2 linked regions of the Homo sapiens genome follow. The protein of the gene in region 2 interacts with the protein of the main gene of each other region in a pairwise test. Each region holds a gene or a part of one and is shown on either strand. Other genes may lie near its edges.

Region 1 (3,500 bases), on a different chromosome or scaffold from region 2:
ATTACAGGCATGAGCCACCGCGCCCGCCACTTCATTCCTTTTACTGCTAAATATTCTTGCATTGCATGGAGATGCCATAATGTGTCTGTTCATTCATCAGTTGATGGGCATGGGCACTGTTTCCAGCTTTTGGCCATGATAGGCTGTGCTGCTATGAAAATTCATGTACACGTTTTTGTGTGGACTTTTTTCATTTGTGTTAGGTATACATATGCATAGGAGTAGAATTGCTGAGTTATATATAATTCTATGCTGAACTTAAAAAAAAATTTTTTTTTTTTGAGATAGGGCCTCACTCTCTGTCACTCAGACTGGAGTACAGTGGCATGATCTCAGCTCACTGCAACCTCCGCCTACCGGGTTCAAGTGATTCTCCCACCTCAGCCTCCAGAGTAGCTGGGACTACAGGCATGCACCACCACACCCGGCTAATATTTGTATTTTTTGGTAGAGACAGGGTTTCGCCATGTTGGCCAGTCTGGTCTTGAACTCCTGACCTCAGGTAATCCACCTGCCTCGGCCTTCCAAAGTTCTGGGATTACAGGTGTGAGCCACTGCGCCTGGCAGACTTTTAAATACTAAACAAGTCTGACATTCCCAGGAAAAACTTGACTTGGTCGCTACGTATTATTCTTTTTACATATTGCTAGAATTGATTTGTTAATATTTTATTGATGATTTTTACATCTAAGTTCATGAAGGATATTGGCCTGTATTTTCCTTATTTGGTATTGTCTTTGGTCTTAGTGTCAGAGTGATGTCAATTATAAAGTGAGTTGGGAAGCATTCACTCCTCCTCTACTTCCTGAAAGAGACTATGCAGACTTGCTGCTCTCTTCTTCTTTATATGTTGGGTAGAATTCTCAGTAAAATCATCTGTGCCTGAATATTTCTTTTTGCAAGGTTACACAAAATTTATAGATTGATATTCTAAAACTTTTATAGGTATTAGAAATAACATCTTTGTGTGTGTGTGTGTGTGTGTGTGTGTGTGTGTGTGACAGAGTTTTGCTCTCGTTGCCCAGGCTGGAGTGCAGTGGTGCGATATCAGCTCAATGCAACCTCCGCCTCCCCGGTTCAAGTGATTCTCCTGCCTCAGCCTCCCAAGTAGCTGGGATTACAGACATGTGCCACCATGTCTGGCTAATTTTTGTATTTTTAGTAGAGATGGAGTTTCACCATGTTGGCCAGGCTGGTCTCAAACTCTTAACCTCAAGTGATCCGCCCGCCTCAGCCTCCCAAAGTGCTAGGATTACAGGCATGAGCCACCACACCTGGCCAGAAATAACATCTTAATCTGAGAAAATTTTCAGCCGAGCAGTTATCACATCATAATGGCACCTCACAACTCTGCCTCGCTACTAGTTCTGGTGTTCCTTTTAACAAACTTGTGGACACTCCTCACTCCTCTGAGGCCCCCACAGCCGGCACCCCGGGCACTACCTATAAATGGCCTGCTTGTCCACATCCATCGGGGTCTGAGACTCCACAGGGGGAGGGCTCACTCCTTCTGCATCGGGTTCAGAGCAGTTTGGATCTTGTTCTGTCTTTAACTCTGTTACTACTTGCATCTGTAAAAGGAGGAAGATAATTCTTATTAGCAAACACAAACTACTACGAGGTATTCCATGCTCCAACAGGAATGCAGTTGGAGTGGGGAATTGCCAGACAGCAGTATGACTGCAATCATATGTAAAGAATGCTACCAACAAAACAGCTTTGAATTTAATGTGCTTTAAAATAAAGGTAAAATTTCCAAACTGCTTAAGAACTGAGATAACCAATGTCTGTGAAATGCTCATGATTTTAAAATAACACTGGCGATGGCCTAATGAAGAGAACGGCACACGTGCAATCTACTCCTCCGTCTATTGCTATATCTCCTCACGTGTAGCAATACTACAGTCAGAGAAGCATAGACAAATAGTCCAAGGTCTTCTTACCATGTCACAGACACAACCTAACCCATACGCTACATATTTGGGACAAGGTTGAACTTCTCCCATATCTACCCTCAAACCTCAGCAATACATAGCCATAAAAATGTCACTGCATTCAGAAAGGAAAAGGCCAGCTGTGTTTACTTAAAGCCTTAAAAGATACTATCATTTAAACTGCTTTAAACAAGCAATGCCTTTGTCATTTAGGTAAAAAACATTTAAATCGTTAAAAAAAATCAGTTTACAAAAACAAAATTTCGTGAAAGTAAACTTCTAGTTATCCATGAGCAGCAGATTAGACTGTCCTGACCTCAGCTTCCTCAGGACCAGGACGGGCCATTTCTCCCGCGGTGGATTTGGCCATGCTTCTGCCCCTTGAGGAAGCAGCTTGGGGCAGCGGGGGCGGGGAGACCTCATGGGAGCGGGGCCATCCCCACTGTCCAGACAGACTGGGGGCCAGCCATGAACGCCCACCCGCACAGGACGCCTCTCACATCCTCCAGCCCTGTGCTCTCTTCCCTCCAATGTCTTGTTTTTGCAATAAGATGACTTCTATTCTGCTGCCTTTAAATGGTACAACATATTAGGAAAACTGTTTATGTTTCTCTTAAAAAAAAAAAATAAAAGCAATAAAGCCTAAGTGGACACAGTATTTGTGTAAGGCAATCTGCCAGCATGTATAAAAAGCCTTAAAAAGGCCAGGCACAGTGGCTTATGCCTGTGATCCCAGCACTTTGGGAGGCCAAGGTGGGCGGATCACCTGAGGTCAGGGGTTCAAGATCAGCCTGGCCAACATGGTGAAACCCTGTCTCTACTAAAAATACAAAAAAATTAGCTGGGCGTGGTGGCACACACCTGTAATCCCAGGTACTCAGGAGGCTGAGACAGGAGAATTGCTTGAACCTGGGAGACGGAGGTTGCAGTGAGCTGAGATCACACCACTGCACTCCAGCCGGGGCAACAGAGCAAGACTCTGTCTCAAAATAAATAAATAAGTAAATAAATAAATAATAAAAAATAAGAAGCCTTAAAAGATTCATTTCAGTATTTGAAAAAAAAATGATTGTGAAAAGAGAGAAACCTAAATGTTCAACCTTGGAAAAATGGCAAAATAATTATGATAGGTCTACGCTGTAGATATATTTCAATGTTTATTTAAAATAATGCTGATTAAACACTTCCGAGGCCCTTGGAAACACTCGGGTATGAAAAGGGCAGTGCTCCAGGTGTCATCTGCACCTGGCACAGCTGCCTGGGAGGAGGTGGCTGGTAGCAACCAGGCTGTGTTGGAGGTGGTCACCGTGCCTTGGTGCACAGGAGGCAGCAGTGGGGTCGGAGCAAAGACCTGGCAGGCAGGAGGGAGAAGAGTGATGGGAACAGTGAGGACCGGTGCTCCAGGGCAGGCAGAGAGGTGCCCAAGATATGCCAGGCAGAGATGTTGGGGGCGTCCTGGGGTCCAGAGGGGCCAGACGATTCGGGCCACAGAGCAGCTCAGTCTTTGCATGAAACCCACAGGAATCCACAGGGAGCCACTGGAGAGCTCAGGCGGGACATTATTAG
Region 2 (3,500 bases):
TAGTCATAAATCAACTACCTACAGTTCCTTATAAGATTGATTTATATTTCTAAATCAAAATGAAACAATAATTGCTACTATCCTCTCAGTTCCAGAAAACCACATATGCTGTCCTCAAACCCCAAACCACAAATGCTAAAAATTATGAATAAGAGGAATGTCTATTTGCTTACATTATAATGAATAAAGAAATAACTAGAGTCTTGCATTGAGAACAATCAGCTCATTCTTGACCTAGCATCCTATTTATCTTTCTATTCTCAAGGCTAATTGCTTATATAAGCATGCCAATTTGCCTTGATTATAGGATTCTTAATAAATGAATGTTGTTTACATTTCACAAGTATATTTGAATTTCACTACAGGAAGCCAAGCTCATCAAGTCTTTGTAAATGGTAAAACCAGAGATCAAAGCAAAAGGGCTGCATTGAACCAACAAACAATTAGGCTACAGAATGGAGGCCTAAGCAAAAATGCAATTGATTTATTGATTGTTCTACTCCAGAAGTATACTTCTGGGTCATTGCTTAATCTTACACCATATGTATAGAATTTTCTCACAAATTTTCATTATGATAATTTGGTGGTCATTTCTTAAATAGTTAAATAAAGTCTCTCTACCATTCAACAGGATTTATCCTTTTCTTCTGTATTTTTTCATCTTGTTGCTTTTAGTTGAATCAAATATCTTTCATTTTTTTAACTCTTCTCAACCTTCTCAATTTTGCCTAATCTATCCAAAATTTTGTTTAACTTCTTAAACAATCCCTTTTCTATTACACTCATTATCTTGTTTTCTGCTGGTTTTAACTCATAGGCAAATTGGCTTGGTCTTTGGGGTAGGAAGAAAAAGGGGGAAAACATCTAGCACAGTGGCTGTCAACCTTGGCTGCACATTCAAACCTTCTAGGGAGCTTTTAAAAATCCTGATGCCCAGGTCACATTCCAGACAAATTTATCAGAATTTCTGGGAGTGGAACCCAGGCATTTGTGGGTTTCTGTTTTTGTTTTTGTTTTTGTTTTAGAGATAGTCTTGCTCTGTTGCCCAGACTAGAGTGCAGTGGCATGATCATAGCTCACTGCAACCTCAAACTTCTGGGCTCAAGCAATCCTCCTGCCTCAGCCTCCCAGGTAAGCTGTGACTACAGGCATGCACCACCACATCTGCTAATTTTCATTAGTAGTAGAAATGAGGTCTCCCTATGTTGCTCCACACTGGTCTAGGACTCCTGGCCTCAAGTGATCCTCCTGTCTTGGCCTCCCAAAGTGCTGGGATTACAGGCGTGAGCCACTGTACCTGGCCCACTTGTACTTTCTGAGGATCGCCAAGTGATGTCAATGCACAACCAAGTTTGAGAACCACTACTTTAACTTACCAATACCCTTATTCTAGCTTAAATAAGGTGTTCTGCCAAACTTCCACGGAGAGAAAAAAAACAAGGAAGGGAAGTCAGGTTCCTGAGCAAACCCTCAACCAAGACAGGTCTTGAGACTAGTGAGATGTGTTATTTAAAAGCACCATCAGTCACACGTTAGTGTCCCAGCACCAGGCACATGGTCAAAAATGTGAACTATTTAAGCCGGGTGTGGTGGCTTATGCCTGTAATCCCAGCACTTTGAGATGTCAAGACTGGTGGATCACTTGAGGTCAGGAGTTCAAGACCAGCCTGGCCAATGTGGTGAAACCTTGTCTCTACTAAAAGTACAAAAACTAGCTGGGTGTGGTGGTGCGTGCCTGTAATCCCAGCTACTCAGGAGGCTGAGGCAGGAGGATCGCTTGAACCCAGGAGGCAGAGGTTGCAGTGAGCTGAGATCACGCCACTGTACGCCAGCCCAGATGACAGAAGGAGAATCCATCTCAAAACAAAAAAATATGAACTATTTGATATTTGACATCATTCCCAAAACCAAGCCATGGGCATCTTCTATGCACAGAAGTCAGTCAAGTGAGATTACTTCTGGGGATAGCAGGGTCTAAACACCTCAAGGCTTTCAGCTTCTGTGGCAATGGTTACAGGGGCTTACAAATGCATCAGAACTTCTGCAAAGAAAAAAGGAGACTAAGGTTACATGTGAAATGAGAGTCACCAAAGTCAATTACAGGCTAAACAAGAACACTGAAGATCATGGAATCACAGAAACTATATGAAGTTTGTCCTAGAAACTATACAAGACTAGAAATCATAGAGAGTTTGTGATAATTGCCTACCAGTGAACACTGATGGTCATGTTTTTCTGTTTGTTTTTTCAGAGAGTGAAAAGAATGTACATTTTTATCTGTCAACATCAAATACCATCATACCTGGTAAATAGGGCTGAATGTTGCCCAATTTCAGAATTCCAAGCCCGTCTGGTCCACATCTCCGGGCCTTGGTTGAGATCACAGTTCAAGAGGCAGCTCTCCAACCTAACAGCTCTTCCCTTAGACATTGCTTCCAAATTATATGCTATCAGTTGGAAACTGCATAGTCCTTGGCATTTATGTTGAAAGACAGGTTTCTGGAAAGGAGGAAGGGGTCACTGGGGAGGAGGGAGGAAGATCACCCTGCAGTATGAACAGATGGAATTCTAAAGGGAAGACAAGCAATGAGCTATCTCTGTCCCCAGTGTTCAAGTAGGTGAGAACTAAGAAGGTACATGAAGGCTCTCTAAGGAACCATGACTCCAAAGCCTAGGGACACACTTCTTATTTGCAGGGATGGCAGTGGCACTCCATAAAGAGCCGCTCTACAAGATGAGATCTGCCAAGCAACTGTATAGCTTGTAACTCACCTTCCCTCCTAAGTTCCTCTAGGCTGTTCCTTCTTTTATAAGGATTCAATGCTTTGTTCCTAAAAGTACTCCAGTTACAGCGTCCTCTTGCAAAGGAGGGGCAATCATCTATAATCAGTGCTTCTTGTATTAGCTACTTTTTTGACATCTATTACTTGCTTAAACCTGAGGGCTGGAGAGCCCACTTTACCTTGTCCCTATTCCCCAAGCTCTAAATATGAAAAAGAAGAGCACTGTTCATTAAGACCAAACCCTTTAAGCAACAGTTCTTATAAAGTCAAATGAATTTCCAGAACAAACATCAGCCCATACGTATCTTTTTCTTCTTTAAGCCCAGGAAGCACCTACCAGGAGATCTTTCCCCACTCTCAGGTGTTATAATTCTATGTCTAGAACCTGCAAGTTGCAGACTCACCTCAAAGAGGGCAACTTTCGAGCCAATAATGTACTTCCTATCTTCTTGGGCTGCAAAGGGCCTTCCAATCACCAGTGTTTGTCACACAGATTATCTGAATAACTTTAACGGAGAACTCACCATCCATTTTCAACAACTCTACATGTTAGAATATTTTTCCCTATGCTCATATGACTTTCAGTCACTGACCCTGGGGAATTCTACTCTTTAGACCACACAGAACACCCCTACACACATTTCCACCTGAAAGCTCTTCAAAAGCCAATGTCAACTAATGAATCACAATGTATTATGTTCTGGAAATTTTGTTTTC

Evidence for each region. Proteins that work in one complex are often made in the same cells at the same time.
Region 1: the proteins of FMNL2 (region 2) and PKNOX1 interact in a two-hybrid assay, tested with the Homo sapiens proteins (one large-scale study listed by BioGRID and IntAct).

The regions. Positions count from the first base shown.
Region 1 is NC_000021.9:43,005,562-43,009,061, reverse strand, and holds part of PKNOX1 (homeobox protein PKNOX1), read right to left. Parts: intron 1,572-3,500; coding exon 1,444-1,571; intron 1-1,443. UniProt on the Homo sapiens protein: Activates transcription in the presence of PBX1A and HOXA1.
Region 2 is NC_000002.12:152,341,674-152,345,173, reverse strand, and holds part of FMNL2 (formin-like protein 2), read right to left. Parts: intron 1-3,500. UniProt on the Homo sapiens protein: Plays a role in the regulation of cell morphology and cytoskeletal organization. Required in the cortical actin filament dynamics.